Homo sapiens: one gene and its partners. The protein of the gene in region 2 purifies or fractionates together with the protein of the main gene of each other region. This does not show direct contact. Each region holds a gene or a part of one and is shown on either strand. Other genes may lie near its edges.

The links.
Region 1: the proteins of CETN3 (region 2) and SFI1 purify together in Homo sapiens (affinity purification with mass spectrometry; one large-scale study listed by BioGRID and IntAct). This does not show direct contact.
Region 3: the proteins of CETN3 (region 2) and CCP110 purify together in Homo sapiens (co-immunoprecipitation; one large-scale study listed by IntAct). This does not show direct contact.
Region 4: the proteins of CETN3 (region 2) and HADHA purify together in Homo sapiens (affinity purification with mass spectrometry, with the first as the bait; one study listed by BioGRID). This does not show direct contact.

Annotation. Positions count from the first base shown.
Region 1 is NC_000022.11:31,611,492-31,616,239, reverse strand, and holds part of SFI1 (protein SFI1 homolog), read right to left. Parts: intron 4,475-4,748; coding exon 4,400-4,474; intron 3,099-4,399; coding exon 3,024-3,098; intron 2,887-3,023; coding exon 2,710-2,886; intron 2,639-2,709; coding exon 2,385-2,638; intron 1,452-2,384; coding exon 1,380-1,451; intron 1,193-1,379; coding exon 961-1,192; intron 1-960. UniProt on the Homo sapiens protein: Plays a role in the dynamic structure of centrosome-associated contractile fibers via its interaction with CETN2.
Region 2 is NC_000005.10:90,402,436-90,408,118, forward strand, and holds part of CETN3 (centrin-3), read right to left. Parts: intron 5,400-5,683; coding exon 5,264-5,399; intron 3,365-5,263; coding exon 3,250-3,364; intron 1-3,249. UniProt on the Homo sapiens protein: Plays a fundamental role in microtubule-organizing center structure and function. As a component of the TREX-2 complex, involved in the export of mRNAs to the cytoplasm through the nuclear pores.
Region 3 is NC_000016.10:19,540,898-19,545,645, forward strand, and holds part of CCP110 (centriolar coiled-coil protein of 110 kDa), read left to right. Parts: intron 1-989; coding exon 990-1,167; intron 1,168-1,723; coding exon 1,724-1,863; intron 1,864-1,980; coding exon 1,981-2,097; intron 2,098-3,899; coding exon 3,900-4,001; intron 4,002-4,196; coding exon 4,197-4,313; intron 4,314-4,748.
Region 4 is NC_000002.12:26,198,429-26,203,176, reverse strand, and holds part of HADHA (trifunctional enzyme subunit alpha, mitochondrial precursor), read left to right. Parts: exon of another isoform or gene 1-857; coding exon of another isoform or gene 858-944; intron 945-1,856; coding exon 1,857-2,028; intron 2,029-4,748. UniProt on the Homo sapiens protein: Mitochondrial trifunctional enzyme catalyzes the last three of the four reactions of the mitochondrial beta-oxidation pathway.

The DNA.
Region 1 (4,748 bases), on a different chromosome or scaffold from region 2:
TGGCCTAACTCACCACAGGAACTGGTTCCTTCCTGTCCCCTCATCCCCTTTCAGGAACCAGCTGCTTTGGTGGCCTTAGAGCAGCTGTCACTTCCATTACTGAGCTCTCACACCCCCTGGCCATCCCCACCCAGGCTCCCTGCTTGGAGCCTCCTCCCCTCTCTCCTTCCCCTGTACTCTCCTCCTAGAGGCCGCAGTGGCTCTGGGGTTACCTTCGGCCTGTGCTGAAGATTCTTCTCAATCTCTGGCCCTGACCTCTTCCTTGAAGGTCAGACTCAACGTTTGCTTTCTCTCAAATTTGACATCAAGAGCCTGGTTCAAAACACTCTTGACACTTCACCCCAAACCAGTCCCCACCCCCAGTTCCTTCTTCCAGTCAAAGAACTCTGTTTCCCAAGTTATTCAAGCCAGCAGCCCACATCAGCCTGGATTCCTTCTTTCCCCTCATTCAGCAACTCCCTCAGAGCAGCATATCCTGCCTCATCTGCCTCCAAGAGAGTACCTGTCCCCTCTGTGGCAACCGCTGAGCCCAGGCCACCAGTACTACTTGCCTGGACCACGTGGTCATGGTGACCACAGCCTGCACAGAAACCTGACATGGTGCTCCCTGCCAAAACCCTTCCCCGACTTCCTACTCTTCTCAAATCCCAGGCTACTTCTCACTGTGGCCTGCAGGACCCTACGTGATCTGCAGCCACTTTACTGGCCTGCAGGCAGGGGTTTTTCTTTGCTTGTCTCTGACTAGAATATAAGCTTCAGGATGGCAGGGCCCTTGGCTGGCTGTTCACTGCTGTGGCCCTTGGACCTGGTGTGCAGTGGCTACCTATGCTTGTCAAATGGATGAGTGGCCTCCCTGTGCCAAGGTTTTCCAGAAACTAGTACAGCTGTGGCATGAGAAAGCACCAGAAGTCAGACCAGAGTGAGAGCCCCAGTGCCCAGGCCTGGTGGTGGAGGACGTACCCTGGCTGGTGCAGCCGCCCCGCAGGGCATGAAGGAGGAAAGAGGCAGCAGCAGCAGCTCCGGGCCTGTGCTTGCCGTCGGGGGCTGCTTCGGGCCAGGGGCGCTTGACAGGGCCCCAGGCAGGGGGCTGTGTGGGACCAGTGCTGTCGGGGCCTCTGCCAGGAAGGGCCGCGTCAGGGAGGGGGCTGCTGGCTGAGCCATGCCTAGGCCATGTTCCTGTGGCTTCTGAGGCCTGAGCACAGGGAAGGCAAGAGCCTGGTCAGGCCACAGGACCCTCCTCTGGGACCAAAGAACAAGAAGGAAAGGGGGCCACCCACCCCAGGGCTGCCAAAACACAGGCCCCACATGGAGGTGCCCGCTGCCTTTGGGGACCCCTGACCATCTCCCCCTGCCTGCCCACGGTGCTGCACCCCAGGGACCTCTGGCTCTGCGCAGGCTCCAACAGGAAGTGTGGGCGTCGCGGCTGCTTCCTCGCTGAGTGGGCAGTGTTGCTGGAAAGAAACATGGGGTCTGTTCCCCTGGGCTGACCAGGGGCTGCAGGGGGGTCTGAGATCTCTGTGGGATCTCCAATTTTATAGGGAGACTGAAAGTCAGGAAAGGCGAGGCCAAGGTCAGCAAGTAAGCTGGGGTGGGCCTGGGCCATAGAGCTCCCAGCAGTTCCGACAAAAGGTACCTGACGCCAGGGGACTGCTTCACCCACATTGTCTCTTTTGACCTGCAGAACAACCCTGGTGACGCTGGTGTACAGGTCGCCAGGGTCCATGTCACAGGGGAGCAGCCTCTGAGACGTTCAGGATCCCATCAAGGTCAGTCAAACAGTGAGGAGCACAGCAGGGACCGGGACCCAGGCCCCATGCACCCACCTGACATCTCCCCCGAGGCCCAAGGCTCTCGGGTAGTGCTGGTTGCTGTGGGAGCCACCAGCTTCATCAGCATGGGGCAGGGCAGGTTAGGGTTTGAGGAGACCATAGTAGGGGTGGGCAGAGGGACAGGTGCCAGCTCACACAAGAAAGAGGGGCTTCTGACAAAAAGCCAGTGTCTTGGCTGTGATGGAGCAGAAGAGAGGCCGGCAGGCACGGGTAGGAGCTGAGCTTGTTCCCTTTGTCAACTACGTGTATGACTCCGGAAAAGATCGTGTCAGCAGGACGGGAGAGAGGGTAGGAAGGTGTTGCAGAGGAGGGGACACCTATTTCCTGAGCTTTGGCAGGCAAAGGAGAGAGGGTTTGGAAATCCCACTCCATTCTCTCCCTCTTGCCGTGGGAGGGATGGGATCTGGCTGGAGAAGAGGGGGTTCCCAGCAGCTCAGCTGTGACAAGGCCGTGACCAGCCCGTCCCATCCCGTCAGGGCTGTTTTCCTCCCTGCTATGCCATCCAACCTTTTGCCCAGGGTGGAAGCGAGGACAAGGTGAGCACAGGCTACTCACAGCTCCAGGGCGTGGGGCTCCTCAGCAGCCAGGCGGCCCAGAGCTCCCAGAGGCCGAGAAGCCTGTGGCCTCTTGGTCTCAAGGGTGCCATCCCCAGCCCCAGCAGCAATGCGGTTGAGAAGGGGACCCTCAAACGTCACTTTCCTGCTGGGTGCGATGGCTGCCAGGGGCTGAGGCTTCCCGCCCCGGCCCAGCACTTTCTGTTTCCAGAGCGTGGCACAGCGGCGGACGGCACGATGGAGACTGTGAGCCGCCTACAACACAGCCTCTGGTCAGCTCATGCCACACCCTGCCTGCTCCCCACAGGAAGGGGCCCTGGGCCTACCTGGACCTGCTGCTGGGCCTGCAGCTGCTGCCGGGAGGCCTTCATGCTGGCTGCAAAGCGCAGGAGCCGCGTGGCACCCTCCTGGAGGAGCTGCCCCTGGTAGGCCTGGAGCGCCCACTGCAGCCGCGCCTTCTTTCTCCTCCTTTCCAGTACAAAGGCCAGCCACGTGGCCCACACCTCCAGGGAGGGCAGGAGGTGAGGCCCAGGTCTCCCTGCTTAGAGCTCCCCCACAGACCAGGTGCCCTCCCTCCACCCAAGGCAGGGCTAAGGCCTGAGGGAGAGGCAGGGATGGTAGGATGCAGAGCCCCAATTACCTTTGCCTGCAGCGAGAAGGCCCAGAACCACAGGGCCCGCACTGTCGCCCGCTGCTCCTGCCTCCTGGCTGCCAGCTAGGGCCAGAAAGACCAGATCATTTCCCTATAGCCCCTTCAAGGAGGCCGTGGTGATCACGGGGCCCTGCCCAGCTCGTCCCTCTTGGCTCCCTCTCTAGTCGAGGCTCCCACTTCCTCCACTAGGAAGGGCCAGCCTTGTGCCTGGCGGTGAGATGCTCAACACACGCTCCATCTGTGGCCTGAGGAATGACCTTCATGAAAGAAGGTGGCAAAGGGCTCCTGCAGGGGGATGCGTGGAGGCAGCGGCCTGAGGTCCGGGGAATGGTGAAAACAGGACAACAGAACGGGAAGAGGGAGCTGGGGACGTGTGGATGCTGCTCTGTGTGATCCCTCTTGGCTTTTTAAAAAGCAAGATCCCAGCAAAGCCTTAAAACACATTTCATGTTAATTTTTAAGATATTATGCTGATTTTTCTTTTTGAGATGGAATCTCACTCTCATCCAGGCTGAAGTGCAGTGGCATGATCACAGCTCACTGCAACCTTGACCTCCCGGGCTCAAGCAATCCTCCCGCCTCAGCCTCCCGAGTAGTTGGGACCACAGGTGTGCACTGCCTACACCCAGCTAATTTTTCTGTTTTGTTTTTGTAGAGATGGGGTCTCACTATGTTGCCCAGGCTGGTCTTGAACTTCTGGGCTCAAGTGATCCTCCTGCCTCGGCCTCCCAAAATCCTGGGATTATAGGCGTGAGCCATCATGCCCGGCCCACTGATTATATATATATATATATATATATATATATTTTTTTTTTTTTTTTTTTTTAGACAGAGTCTCGCTCTGTTGCCCGGGCTGGAGTGCAGTGGTGCTATCTCAGCTCACTGCAAGCTCTGCCTCCCAGGTTCACGCCATTCTCCTGCCTCAGCCTCCCGAGTAGCTGGGACTACAGGCGCCCACCACCACGCCTGGCTGATTTTTTTTGTATTTTTAGTAGAGACGGGGTTTCACCGTGTTAGCCAGGATGGTCTCGATCTCCTGACCTCATGATCCGCCTGCCTCGGCCTCCCAAAGTGCTGGGATTACAGGCGTGAGCCACTGCGCCCGGCCTCCACTGATGTATTTTTTAATACAACACTGTAGAGAGAGAAACTGGCCTTGAAGTAACTGTTCTTATGCAGACTGCAGACGGAAGGAAGCTGATGTGCCTGGAAATGACAGGAAGGTGGTAGAGGAGGTGGCCCTGGGGAGGGTGATAGTAAAAATACTGAACTAGAGGTGTAGGCTGAAGGTCATTCACTGCCCAGGCCTCACAGGCCAGAGGATGGAGAAGGAAGTGCAGAGGGGACATCTCCTGGGTTCCCACCTGTTGTCTCCACTGGCGGAAGCAGGTCCGGCTGAGTCTCTGTGCCAGCAGTTGGGTGCTCTGCCTGTGCAGGAGCTGGGGGAGAGCAAGTGCACAGAGAGTGGCGTCCTGACCCAGCCTAGACAGCCTGGGGTGGGTCCTGATCTAACCCAGCCTCTGCCCAGCTGAATGTCCTCCCATTGCTAGGAGTCCTGGATGGTGCCAGGGGTCTCCTGCATAGGCAGGGAGTGCCGCCTAGAGGACTCACTCTGTAGGTCCCCCAGCACTGATAAGCCACGGGTCAGCATGAACCGGGTTTTTCCGCTGAGCCGTCTTCCCTGGGAGACACTGGATTCTGGGGCTGGCTACT
Region 2 (5,683 bases):
AACATGCTATCCGTCTAGTACCATTCTTTGTTGTTGCTGCTTTCTAAGCCTAGAATGCTTTTTCTCTACTCTTCCTGGCAATCTTGGAATGAAATCTTACTCACATTTCCAAAGGCCTAAATTTAAAATCTCCTCTGCAAAGACTTCAATTCCTCTAGATCAGGGATTAACAAATCTTTCCTGTAAAAGGCCAATAGTAAATATTTTAGGCTTTGTAGAGGGCCATAAAGTCTCTAACTACTCACTCTGCCATAGTAGCACAAAAGCTGCATAAAAGAAGGGGTGTGGTGGTGTACAAGCAGCAGCTGAATTTGGTCCAAAGGCTATAGTTGCTGACTTCTGTCCTAGACAAAATTACAATTTACCACATAGTACTATAGCCTGTTGTCACCTATATTTACATTGTAAACTCCCTGAAAGAAGAACCTTTTAGTAACTTTTAATTAAGTCTTCTTCCCAACCCCAGTACAGTACCTAATACCAAAAAATTCAGTGTTAAATAAGCAAAATGAAGACAATAATACAGTATTACAATCTCAATCAGCAATAATAAGTAGTACATGTCAAAAATAGTGTACAAACGTTTGACTTATGTTAGTCTTAAAGACACTAATTCCTAAAATATCTATGTTACTCACTAGCCTCAGGCTGTCTTGACTCTAAACTTAAATTAAATATATTTTAAAGCTTTTTTCCAGTACTAGGAAGAGTCTATAATAGTTAACTGCCAAACTTCATCCAGATATATCTGTGGAACAGTGTCCTTGGGTAGTTCATAAAACTAGGACTCAAATGTTATGATTTAGAATCATCTGTCCCAAAGTATAAAACATATTAATCTGTGGTCAGTGATTAGTTAAAAATAATCAACAAAAGGGGTAATACATAGTTCCTGAATGATTCCCAAACAGTAATACATTTTTATTTGACACCTGGTACTCTCCATAGGTAGCCTTAAGATAGCTAAGATACATGTTGACCCTGTCAAAAGGTTAATCTTTTAGTGTCAAAGCTGAAGTTTAGCCACATCTATTTATTCTAGAAGGAACCCAGTATTTCTGCTCTGTTAATAACATAGAACAGATGGGGTGTCAGGAAAAAGTGGAGGTGGCATGGGATTCTGGTCCCAACTGCCAATAAAAATCACAATTTTTGGCCGGGCGCGGTGGCTCACGCCTGTAATCCCAGCACTTTGGGAGGCCGAGGCGGGCGGATCACGAGGTCAGGAGATCGAGACCATCCCGGCTAAAACGGTGAAACCCCGTCTCTACTAAAAATACAAAAAATTAGCCGGGCGTAGTGGCGGGCGCCTGTAGTCCCAGCTACTTGGGAGGCTGAGGCAGGAGAATGGCGTGAACCCGGGAGGCGGAGCTTGCAGTGAGCCGAGATCCCGCCACTGCACTCCAGCCTGGGCGACAGAGCGAGACTCTGTCTCAAAAGAAAAAAAAAAAAAAAAAAAAAAAAATCACAATTTTTAAATTGTGTTCATTTAAGGTGAAATAACATATTTTGTAAAATTATTAGTGATGATACAGTGCTTACAATAGCCTTTATGAAAAAAGTCAATAAAAAATATACACAAAGTCTATTTTATGTCCCAGTGATGCATATATGATTATTTCGAGCCCCTGAAACAAAGACAATTTTTTAAAGTAATAATAATAGCAAATGCTTAGTAGCACTTACAACATGCTAGGCCCTTTTCTAGGTACTTCACATATCATTAACTTAATCCTTAGAAGAATCTCATGAGAGAATACAATGATCCCCACTTTATAGTTGAAAATGAGGCATGGGGTATTAAAAAGACCAAGTTCCAGAGCTGTAAAGTGGCAAAACCAAGGTATGAACCAAGGGAATCTGGTTCCAAGTGCTAAACCACTATACTGTACTAAACATACCTGGATTATAGCTCCTTCCTAATAGTACCATTTCCACTATATACAAACACCTTGTTTCTACAAATAAACAATCTAAGGTAAAACTAGGAATACTACGATCATAAACTTCAGGAGAGTGTCCATTCTGGGAGAACAAAAGGTGGCTCTCTCCCTTTCCTCAAATAATTAATTCTACAAATTAGAGGAAAAAAGGAAAATGTCCCCAATGGACAAGTTGCCTCTCTAAACAGTCATATATTAGTTCATAAGTTGAGGATCTTCTGTGCTGTGTTTTTTTTCTCTTAGGTTCATCATTTATTTTCCATCTCAACTGCTTATGACTTGAGCTTTTGGATTTAAAAAACTGACTAATGACATGAATCTAAATTTTCTCTGCGTCTACTAATTGCCATTTCTTTTTGCTTCCCCTATTGCTTCTTGATTAATATTTAAAATAAGGGGTTTGTGTATATAGCAGAATTTGTTTCCAAATTTTTAAAATATCTTAAAATACTTATATGATGTGCTTATATCGTGACCCATTGGTTTAGAGAAAAAAAAAAAAAGAAATAAACCTGAATATTTACATATTTTGTAGATAATATTCTAGACAATACATTTAAGTTATAATAGCAACATCCTTGCCTTCCGGACTCTTCTATTTTGAAAAAGCCTGGTCTATATATGCTATAAATAATTCACTAAAATCAACTATAAAAAAATTTAGCCATATTAAGCCTATGACACATTATCTTCAGTTGGTGGTACTAGGATGTTTTCTCCTGCTTCCAGTATGCCCACTGCCTCCTTTACTACTACCCTCTAAACAGATGACTTTATCCACTGAGATCAAGGTCATCCAGAGGATGTAGCCTCTCATAAACTTTGTCAACCTGAAGTCGTGCATTTCATCTACAGCCAAAGATACCAACTACTACCAGTTCCCTCTTCTCCCACTTAGCCAACAAAAATCACATACCAGAAAGGTCTTGGGAAACATTTTCCAAACAGCAGGATATCAAATTTTCTGTTTTATTAAGCAAAAATAATTTTTTGATCACCCTTCAAGTTTTATCACATAATATAAATACAAACAACTTGGAAAAGCATCTTTCTATAAAAAGCTACACAATAGTTCCTTGGTTAGAATCTTCACAACAAAACAAAAGACAAAACTATAAATCTCAGAGCAAAGCCATATTTTTTCTTTGAAAAAAAAACCAACAAAACAAAACTGAGTAAGAGTCACATTATACACCAGTGTTCTATAAGAAAATTCCATAACCTAGAGAATTTAAAATTTAAAAAGTGATATTAATCAGACAATTTCCTAACAGCTGCTGATTACAAAGACTATTAAAATACACACCAACTTCATTAAAATCTTCAAAGGTGATTTTCCCTGTGGCTTCTCTGTCATAATCTTTAAGAATCTTCAGTACATCAGCTTTTTTTACATCAAACCCCAAGGCTCTCATTGCCACCTTTTGGATTAAAAAGGAAAAGCAAATTATAAAGCACTCTTTACAAAAGAATTTCTAATTATTAAGTTTTTACATCTTAAGAGATGACAACACATTAATAAAATATAACTTTTTTGCATGTTTTACCTCTTTAAAATAGCAGTGATAGTGTAATTGTTCTTCACTACTGAAATTAAGTATGCATAAGTTTTTTCATTTATAAATTGCATTTTTTATATGACAAAGTAACCAACAAGTGTTTACAGATTTTACTATATAAAATGCACTAACTTATTGCACAGATAATTTGATTGTTATTTGTTCTGAAGGGATTAACAATCAAAATGAGAAAAAGGCGTGGCATAAATATTAAACAGTTACATGATAGAAGAGATAAAACATTAAAACAAGAATTATCATCAGTCTTTCCATGATTAGTTACCAGGTAAATGATAGGGCTAAGGACCCTGAGTTTAGAGAAAAAAGAGATTTTGTTACTAATAATAAGGAAGGAGACATATTACTGACTAGAGAAGTCTTATTTGGAAAGATTCAAACTGTTCCTTGAAGGATAGATGAAGAGGAGCAGTAGGGTATTTGGGAAGGATGACTGGTATTAAAAGAAACACTGAAACGAATAGGTTCGAAGGACAATGAACAGAGCAGTTTACCTCACCTGAATTAGAAAAGTTCAGGTGAGGTAAACTGCTCACCTGAATTAGGAGGTGAATTCCACCTTAATTAGAAGAGTTCAGGAGGAAGAAAGCAGTTAGCAAATGAAAAAAGTAGTTGGTGGCAAAAGTGTAGAGAACATTCAGTAGAAAGCAAAGGAATCTGAACTTTAAGTAGTATACAATGAGGAGTTATGGTTTATGAGCAATGAACAATTTATGAGCAATGGTGAAAGAATTTTTAAACTATCTAAATTCAGTGGTAGTGTACAAGGTGAACTAGTAAGAAATCATTTAGGAAGCTCCAGGTATGAAATAAGGTCCCAAACCAAGATAGTCAATGGTTACAAATGGAACAGACATTATAAAGGAAGATCAAATCTGGGTAACCAAAAAAAAAAAAAAACAAAAAAAACAGTGGGAAAAGAGAGCCAAAGAGGACTGCAAGATTGAGAAAGCTAGACTTAGCAGGCCTATTAACTGCTTTTATACATTCTATCCTGTCACTGCATAGTTCCTATCCCTACTTGGAATTCTAATGCTTAAAAATCCCTTACGAAATTACAAAAATTAAAACTACCAAATAAACACTTACATTCACCTATCCATTAAGGCCATTAAAAATCTCAAAATACTATCTTTCCCACTGTGCTGAAAGTAAGTCCCATTCTACCCTAAACCCAAATCTCTCCTTATACCCTGACAAATAATAATTTACAAATCTCTCCCTACACTTTGACATTCTAGGTCTTAAAGCTGACATTTTTACCTATTAGCATGTGTCAACATCAAACAGCACTAAAGTTGTTTGCACCAGAGAAAGTGGATTGAGACTATGTTACTAACAAATCCAAATTATAAGATTAAAAGACAACACTCCCACAGTCTGAAAACAGTATGAGTCACCAAGAAACAAAAACAAAAACAAAAAACAGTGAAAAGAAGATGGTAAGAATAAATTCCAGTTTGAAATCCTTTAATTATGACAGTGAAAAATAAGCACCTTCCCTGGGAATGTATTTTTACATTTAAAATACTATTCGTTTTCTCATGTGAAAAAGATTTTCTAAAAACTATGTTAGGAGTTCTCTTCAGTTTTATTACAGCATCTAACTATGAATGCTTAAAATGCCTTCATAGTTCCAAAACCAATTTAGTTAAAATAATTATTTAGAAATGTAATGTAAAGCAACTGTAAAAATGCAAATCATTTTAACACAGAAACAAATATTTTAAAGTATACCATTACCTTTAATTCATGATAATCTATTGCTTCATCTTTGTCTGTATCAAATAGTTCAAAAGCATCTTTAATTTCTTGTTTCTGTTCCTCAGACAGTTCTCTTCTTTTTTTCCTCTTTGTTTTGTCCACTACAAGCTCACTTCTATGAAATGGAAAGAAAAAGCCCTTAGTCCACTTTAATTCTCTTTACTAACAGAAATTAGCCAATAATTACCTTCTAAATTTCAAAAAAGAAAGTACTTTGGAGAAAGATAGGGAAACTTTCCCTTTATGAGTCAATGACCTGTTTATTCCATAGTCTAAATTGCTATAAATCTGAACTTCGCAAAACTAAAGAGTGTTACAGATTATTAAAAGAAATGAGGACCAAACTTTTCTTTTTCCCAGCTTTTTATTTATTCCCACTAATGTTACTGTGGAAGAAAC
Region 3 (4,748 bases), on a different chromosome or scaffold from region 2:
GTAAGGGAGTCATTTTGATACGTGAATGGTATTTTTTGTCAAAATATGAATTTTGATATTTAGATCCTTATCTAAAAGTAATTGCATAATTTATCGAGAATATTTTATTGAATCCTTGATTTAAAGCTTAATATTTTAAAAAGGTATTTTATAAATAGGTGCTAAAGTACACATTCTGCAGGAGTTGTATCATAAAAATGACACTCATGCTGGGCGTGGTATCATGAGCCTGTAGTCCCAGCTATGCAGGAGGCTGAGGTGGGAGGATTGCTTGAGCCCAGAAATTCAAGGCTGCAGTGAGCTATGATTTCGCCTTTGTCTAGCCACTGCACTCCAGCCTGGGCAACAGAGGGAGACCCTGTCTCTATAAAAAGAAAAAAAAAAAGAACGACACTTGTTATAATATTATTATAATTAATAATTTAACTATACATTATCACATATTAAATTATAGCCTGGGCGTGGTGGCTCACGCCTGTAATCCCAGCACTTTGGGAGGCCGAGGTGGATGGATCACCTGAGGTCAGGAGTTTGAGACCAGCCTGGCCAACATATAGTGAAATCCCATCTCTACTAAAAAATACAAAATGGTGGTGTATGGACCTGTAGTCCCAGCTACTTGGGAAACTGAGGCAGGAGAATCACTTGAACCCGCAAGGTGGAGATTGCAGTGAACCGAGATCGTGCCACTGCACTCCAGCCTGGGGGACAGAGCGAGATTCTGTTTCTTGAAACAAGAAAGAGAGAGAGAGGAGAGAGAGAGAGAGAGAGAGAGAGAGAGAGAGAAAGGAAGGAAGGAAAGAAAAGAAAAGAGGGAGGGAGGGAAGGGAAGGGAAGGGAGAAGGAAGGAAGGATAATTTGAGGAAGAAAAACTTGAAATAAATAATAATTGCTGATAATTACATGTACTTTTGGCTAAGCCTAAAATGATATCATTTTGGGACATAATTAAAAGGTTTAGCATGTTACAATAAACTGTTCATGTATAGGAAATAGAAGAGCAGGAGAAAATGTTAAAAGAGAAGAAGGCAATGACAGCGGAAGCCTCTGAGTTGGACATTAACAATGCAGTGGAATTAGAATGGAGAAAAATAAGTGACTCTAGTTTGCTGGAAACAATGCTGTCTCAAGCGGACTCACTCCATACTTCAAATTCAAATAGTTCTGGTAAATATTTAAAAATCCTTTTACATTTGGGAAAGTGATCCTACGGTAAGATATTTATTTGGCACACTATAAGATTATATCTCCTGTTTTCAAATGATTCCATGTCCAACCCTCTTTGCCAGCTGCTTAGTAACCAGTGAAAAATGACATGATAGGAGATCAAAGACTTGTGAGCAGATGTTTGTGAACAAAGATTACCTTTGCCAGGAAAAGATCAGGAAATTTGGCTTAGAGCCCAGTCTGATCATTCATGCAGCAGGTGATATACTTCAAGTGAAAACAGTTTGCTCTCTCCTGAGTGATCTTGAATTACCTCTAATTCCCTAGTCCCTTTAAATAGCTTATCTTCATATCTCAATTATCCTGAGATGCTGTTTGTGTTGAAAAGATCCACCTGGTATGTAAGCTTTAAAGTCCATAAATATTTTAAGTCGGCAGGTAGGTCATTTTTGGAGGCAGTTGTTATTCTTAATGAGTGTCACAAGTGTTTATTGGGATGTTCTTCGTATTCTAATTATATGACATCAAGTATAATACTATATGTATGTTTCTCTAGGTTTCACAAATTCTGCCATGCAATATAGCTTTGTTTCTGCAAACGAAGCACCATTCTACCTCTGGGGATCATCAACTAGTGGCTTGACCAAACTCTCAGTAACAAGGCCTTTTGGAAGAGCCAAAACTAGATGGTCTCAAGTGGGTAAACTTAATGATACATGTCCATCTATCTATTTATCTTTTCTTAAGAGCTATATTATCTTAGACTGTATAAATGAACACCAATAAACATTGTGTCTGTCTTCTTTCTCCTAGGTTTTTAGTCTGGAAATACAAGCAAAATTTAACAAAATAACTGCAGTGGCAAAAGGATTTCTTACTCGTAGACTTATGCAGACAGATAAGCTGAAGCAACTTCGACAAACTGTAAAAGTAAGATTCCTGTAAATCGTTTGTATTTCACTTCTGTCTTAGTTTCTATCAGTCTTGTGACAGCTGAGCTAACAGATTAGTTCAGAACTTAAACGCTTTTTAGTCACTGTAATCTAGGCAGTTTTAGAAGTCTGATTGTTTGTTGCGGGAAGTCAGGGACCCCGAATGGAGGGACCAGCTGGAGCCGCAGCAAAGGAATATAAATTGTGAAGATTTCATTTTAATATGGACATATATCAGTTCCCAAATAACACTTTTATAATTTCTTACTCCTGTCTTTACTTCAATTGCTGAACATAAATTGTGAAGATTTCATTTTAATATGGACATTTATCAGTTCCCAAAATTAATACTTTTATAATTTCTTATGCCTGTCTTTAATCTCTTAATCCTGTTATCTTCATAAGCTGAGGATGTAGGTCACCTCAGGACCACTATTGTGTTAACTCTACAAATTGATTGCAAAACATGTGTGTTTGAACAATAGGAAATCAGTGCAACTTGAAAAAGAACAGAATAACAGCGTTTTTCAGGGAACAAGGGAAGACAACCATAACTGACTGCCTGCGAGGTCGGGCAAAATAGAGCCATATTTTTCGTCTTGCAGAGAGCCTATAAACGGACGTGCAAGTAGGGAAGATATTGCTAAATTCTTTTCCTAGCAAGGAATATTAATAATTAATACCCTGGGGAAGGAATGCATCCCTGGGGGGAGGTATATAAACGGCCACTCTGGGAGTATCTGTCTTATGCGGTTGAGATAAGGACTAAAATATGCCCTGGTCTCCTGCAGTACCCTCAGGCTTACTAGGATTGGGAAATTCCACCCTGGTAAATTTGTGGTCGGACCAGTTCTCTGCTCTCAAACCCTGTTTCCTTTTAAGATGTTTATCAAGACAATACGTGCACAGCTGAACATAGACCCTTATCAGTAGTTCTGATTTTGCCCTTGTCCTGTTTCCTCAGAAGCATGTGATCTTTGTTCTCCTTTTTGCCCTTTGAAGCATGTGATCTTTGTGACCTACTCCCTGTTCTTGCACCCCCTCCCCTTTTGAAATCCTTAATGAAACTTGCTGGCTTTAAGGCTCAGGTGGGCATCATGGTCCTACCAATATGTGATGTCCCCCTCGGACGCCCAGCAGTAAAATTCCTCTCTTTGTACTCTTTCTCTTTATTTCTCATCTGGCTGACACTTATGAAAAATAGAAAGAACCTATGTTGAAATATTGGGGGCTGGTCCCCCCAATAATCGTTAATCTTTCTCAGATAATATTATGAATAACATGTAAATGAAGCAGTTTGTGTGTTTTTGACTTGCTTGAAAGTGAGTGGTTTGACTTCTGATAAGTAATAGTTTTATTTATGTTCTTAGTACAGTCGGTCCTCTATCTCTGGGTTCCACATCTGTGGATTCAACGAACCATGGATCAAAAATAATTCAGAAAAAACAAATGATGGTTGTGTCTGTACTGAACATGTACAAATTTTTTTTCCTTGTCATTATTTCCTAAACAATATAACAACTATTTACATAGCATGTACATTTATTAGGTATTTTAACTAATCTAGAGATGATTTAAAGTATATGGGAGATGTGCTTAGGTTATATGCAGATAACTATTTTATATAAGGGACTCCAGCATCCTTGGATTTTGGTATCTGAGGGATTCATGGAACCAGTCCCCCACAGATACTGACGAAAGACTGTAATTTTGGATTGACTGAGAAAAAGAAAAAAGCAAACTCCAGTGATCACAAATCTTTCTAGAAAAATGTTTTTGAAGGAGCATTTCTTTTTTCAGGATACTATGGAATTCATAAGAAGTTTTCAGTCAGAAGCACCATTAAAGAGAGGCATTGTTTCAGCTCAAGATGCTTCACTTCAGGAAAGAGTGTTAGCTCAGGTAAATACATGGATCCTGAAGGCTTTTAAGACATGGACATATTATATTTCTCCTTTTTTATTTAATCACTGAAAATAGGTTTCAATGAAAACTATTTTAATCTTTTTCTATAAATAAGTGTACATGGTATATAGTATTCCTGAACTCTAACCTCATCTTTTAAATGTATACAATATTTTCTTCTCTTGTGCCTAGTTGCGAGCTGCCTTGTACGGTATTCATGACATATTCTTTGTAATGGATGCAGCTGAAAGAATGTCTATTCTACATCATGATCGAGAAGTTCGCAAAGAGAAAATGCTCAGGCAAATGGTATGTTATATGATTTCTAATGAATAGAGTTCTTCTGGGTTTAGGGTAATTGATACTAAATGTCAGTTTTGGTTGACTTCAGCACCCTTCTTCTGATAATTCTTAAGCACAAGTAATTCCTGGAATTACTAGCAGCATTTAAATCTGTAGACAGATTTAAAAGAATTACATCATTTAAGAATTACATATTGTTTTCTTATTGGATTTTAGAGTTGAAGCTTTGAATGTTTTGCTCAGATGGCTTATACAATCTATCAGCTGCTCCTGATTGAATTTCCTTGAATTCAATTATAATGTGGGTTTTGCTTTTTTTGAAATCTGAGTTAGAAAACAGGCTCCAAGTTAATTTGAAGTATATCAGAGTATGTGATTTGAATCAGTTATCTTAGTGTGATTGGCAAAGGAAAAGCAAGCAAAATTTACATAATTCTAATT
Region 4 (4,748 bases), on a different chromosome or scaffold from region 2:
CATCGTGTTGGCAGATTATTGTAAGATAACAAGTTGTAGTAGAAGATTCTGACCAAAAAAATGATGTGTGCTAGATAGCAGCAGTGCCCTGAAACTAGCATGCAAGCATCCCAAACAGCATTCCATACCATCACCAAAGTAAGAAATTGTTGCTCTAAAATAGTTTCCTCCCCCAGTCTCTCTTGAATAGTGTCCTGGGTTCCCCTTTTCGTCTTAGAAACATCAGGTTCTGGCGAGTGCCGCTCACCACACTGCTGACTTGGGACAATAGTTCCTGTCCTCTCTTGGGAATAGTTTAATCAGGCATTAGAATTAGAGCAACTGATAATGTTTTGAATGCTGACAAGTATCTTGTTTGCTGACTGCTGTCATGATTGTCAAAAACAAAAGCTTTGAGCCCATACTTTTAAGACCTTATTTGATGTTTTTGTTTCTTTTGAGACAGTCTCACTCTATTACCGAGGCTAGAGCACAATGGTGCAATCTTGGCTCACTGCAACCTCTGCCTCCCGGGTTCAAGCGATTCTCATGCCTCAGCCTCACGAATAGCTGAGACTACAGGCATGCGCCACCATGCACAGCTGATTTTTGTTTTTCTTATAGAGACGGGATTTCACCATGTTGGTTAGGCTTGTCTTGAACTCCTGGCCTCAAGTGATCCGCCTGCTGCAGCCTCCCAAAGTGCTGGGATTACAGATGTGAGCCACCATGCCCAGCCCTTAAGACCTTCTTTGAATACTCCTTTGTATTTATCTTGTGGCCTTAATTTTGCTTTTGGTTAAGGAAATTAGTGAATGGGGTTTAGCTTCATTCTTCATTTAGAGGAAAACTGTAGGTAATTTATTCTGAAAGTGTGGTCAGACGGAATCTAAGAGAACCTGTTTCCCTTGGCGACGAAAAATAATCAGTTGAATGTCTGAATAACAGGAATCCTTTTCTGCTCCCTATGGGAAAAAAGAAACCTTGAGTTAATATTTTATGTAATCAGTGCAATGTGCTACTAGGTAATGAGTGGGAAGTAGATGGAGAATATAGGAAATAATGCTTGGTCTCTGTTCTTTAGAAGATTACAACCACAGGCTGGGCGCGGTGGCTCACGCCTATAATCCCAACACTTTGGGAGGCTGAGGCGGATGGAACACGAGGTCAGGAGTTCAAGACCAGCCTGGCCAAGATGGTGAAACCCCATCTCTACTAAAAAAAAAAAAAAAAAAATTAGCCAGGCGTGGTGGTGGGCGCCTGTAATCCCAGCTACTCAGGAGGCTGAGGCAGAGAATTGCTTGAACCCAGGAGACAAGAGGTTGCAGTGAGCTGAGATCACGCCACTGCACTCCAGCCTGGGCAACAGAGCGAGACTCCGTCTCAAAAAATAAATAAAAAAAAAAAAAGATTACAACTACAGAATAACATAAAATTATATATTTGCGATAAGCAAATATAAACCATGTGGTCTCAGACACACTTTGGCTGCTTCCCCTGTCATAGGTAGAGAATTACCAGAACTCCTCTTTTGTTTTGCCATTCTAGTATTCATGTTATTTACTCCTCTTGGCAAATTTAACTGGTTTAAGAGTGATTTAGTTTACGTAAATTGGGCATTTGGAGGCATTCTATGGTAGAAAGAATGTGTACTTGGGAGTTAACATGTCTTTGAATGCTAGCACCCTCCCTTATCAAGCTATTTGACCACAGGTCCCTCTAAGACTAAACAACTTGAAAGTCTCCCTCAAAATGGGAGTAATAGAATAACTACCTCACAGAGTTGGTGAAAAACACAGGTGTGCTCTGGCCCATGGACATTCAATAAACGTTAGTTTCCTTTTCTTCCCATCTAACTAGGAATGTGTTTTTTCTAGATTGAATGACAAAGTGAAGAAGAAAGCTCTAACATCATTTGAAAGGGATTCCATCTTCAGCAACTTGACTGGGCAGCTTGATTACCAAGGTTTTGAAAAGGCCGACATGGTGATTGAAGCTGTGTTTGAGGACCTTAGTCTTAAGCACAGAGTGCTAAAGGAAGTAGAAGCGGTAAGCAAGGGGCTGTTGTACTTGAATCCTAGTGTAGTGAACAGAAAACACAGAGATTTTTTTTTTAAAGGAGCTATAGGAAACTCATGATTGCTTTTATAAAAAGGACTATTCAAAGGCTGGGCATGGTGGCTCACGCCTATAATCCCAGTAGTTTGGGAGGCTGAGGTGGGCGGATCACGAGGTAAGGAGTTCGAGACCAGACTGGCCGATATGATGAAACCCCATCTCTACTAGAAAATACAAAAATTAGCCGGGCATGGTGGCACACACCTGTAGTCCCAGCTATTTGGGAGGCTGAAGCAGGAGAATCACTGGAACCTGGGAGGCAGAGGTTGCAGTGAGCCGAGATCACGCCACTGCACTCCAGTCTGGGTGACAGAGCGAGACTCCATCTCCAAAAAAAAAAAAAAGACTTTTTGTTATCAAACGTTAAGTTTTTATGTGTGCTCATGCACACTGCATATGTTATAAAGGTCAAATCTAAATTCTAAAGGAAGAAAATGAGGGTGCGTTCACCTTATTCATGTAGGAGCTCTGTCACCCAAACATACAGATAACCTCACAGAGTATAGCCAGATGCTTTGAGATTTTTTGGTTAGCCGAAAGCCAAAAACAAACCTCTTCAGGTCTAAGGCTGCAAAGGAAATAGGGAAGACAGTTCGTCCAGATGCTTGTTCTGTGGAAATGCTGCTTTGGCCCAGCTCCCAAATGTTCTCCATAGGCACTTCTTGAGATGGGCTGACATGAACAAAACAAGTACTTGAAGTGGGGAGTAGGAAGAGTAAGCCCCGAGAAGGAGTAATAGCAGTAATTCAGGGATGAGGTAGGACCAAGGCCTAAGCTAGTCTACAGTTGGATAAACAGAATGTGGGTTACTGAAAGGTGAACATGAAATGATTCTGACTTGGCAACATGCTGGATATAATGAGCAGTGAGCTCATTACAAAAAATAAGAGTACCACAGAGCAAAACTCCGTCTCAAAATAAATAAATAAACAAACAAACAAACATTATCTTCTCTTATTGCCCATAGAGCTAACAAAACCCATTCCTTGGACAATCTTCCACAGGCATGATCTCTAGACCACCCCGTTTCGGTTGTCCTCTCTAGTATCTTCCTCATGTCTCCGTGTTCTACTGCTGTGTTTACAACTATCTTTTCACAATTCTGCAATCTGGGCAGGGCTCTGCAGAGACAGTGGTGCTTAAGTCCATTGATTTCAAGGCTGGGGTCACTCCTGGGCTGCATTCCGCAGGAAGCTCGGTTGGGGCACCTCACTGCTTCCCCCACATCTCTCATAGTCCATCCTCACTTAGTCGTCTCACCACAACTTCTTTGTAGCGTGGCTGCAGGCTTCCAAGAGAACAAAAGCAGAAGCTACTGAGCTTCCTAAGTTTATTGTCAGGAAGAAAAAAAGATAAATAATTTAAAAAATAAAAAAAGAGGCTACCGGGCCCCACAGGTCTAGGTAGGCCTGGAACTGGCAGGGTAACTTCTGCTGCATTGTGTTGATAAAAACAAGTCACAAGACCAGCCCAGATTCAAGGAGAAGGGAAACAGACTCTACTTCTAGCTGGGAGAAAAGACATACATGTCCAAGGAAGGGAAGAATGTTTGCCAGCCAGCTTTGGAGACATTAGTTTGCTCTTCAGAAAGGATTTCACCACCAGCATTAGACACTATATTACTAAGAAAGTAACCTGACACTACGTAAGCTTTCTGACAGTCATGCTGTACTGTCAATTCATTCCACTTTTGTTTTGTTTTTTTGTTGTTAGAGACAGGGTCTCACTCTGTCACCCAGGCTGGAGTGCAGTGGCATGATCACAGCTCACTGTAACCTTGAACTCCTGGGCTCAAGCGAGCCTCTCACTTCAGCCTCCTGAGTAACTAGGACTATGGGTATGTACCACCATGCCTGGCTAGTTTTTTAAAGTTATTTTTTGTAGGGCCGGGCACTGTGGCTCACACCTGTAATCCCAGCACTTTGGGATGCTGAGGCGGGTGGATCACGAGGTCAGGAGTTCAAGACCAGCCTGGCCAAGATGATGAAACCCTGTCTTTACTAAAAACTACAAAAAAATTAGCCAGGCATGGTGGCAGGTGCCTGTAATCCCAGCTACTCGGGAGGCTGAGGCAGGAGAATTGCTTGAACCCAGGCGGCAAAGCTTGCGGTGAGCTGAGATTGCACCACTGCACTCTAGCCTGGGCGAAAAAGCAAGACTTTGTCTCCAAAAAAAAAAAAAAAGTTATGTTTTGTAGATATAGGGTCTCACTATGATGCCGAGGTTGGTCTTGAACTCCTGGCCTCAAGTAATCCTCCATCCTTGGCCTCCTGAAGTGTTGGGATTATAGTTGTTTAGCCACCATGCCCACCCTCCACTCTTGATTAACTAAAATCATGGGATCTTTATCACAAATACTGCCAAGCCAGGTCTTGTCCTTCAAGTACCTATACAGTTCTTTTCTTTCCTTTTTTTTTTAAATCTTAAGGCAGTACTTTACTTTTATTGCATTATAATCTTATTTTGTACTCAGCTTTTCAGTGTGTTGAATGTGTCTTCCTCCTTGATTCTCATCTCTGTTAGGATTCTGCCTGTTCCAGATTTGCACACATTTGACAGGTGTCCCTTCCACGTTTCTCATCCAACCATCTGAATAAAAACATGAATAACTGGGAGGCGGAGGTTGCAGCGAGCCTAGATTGCACCACTAC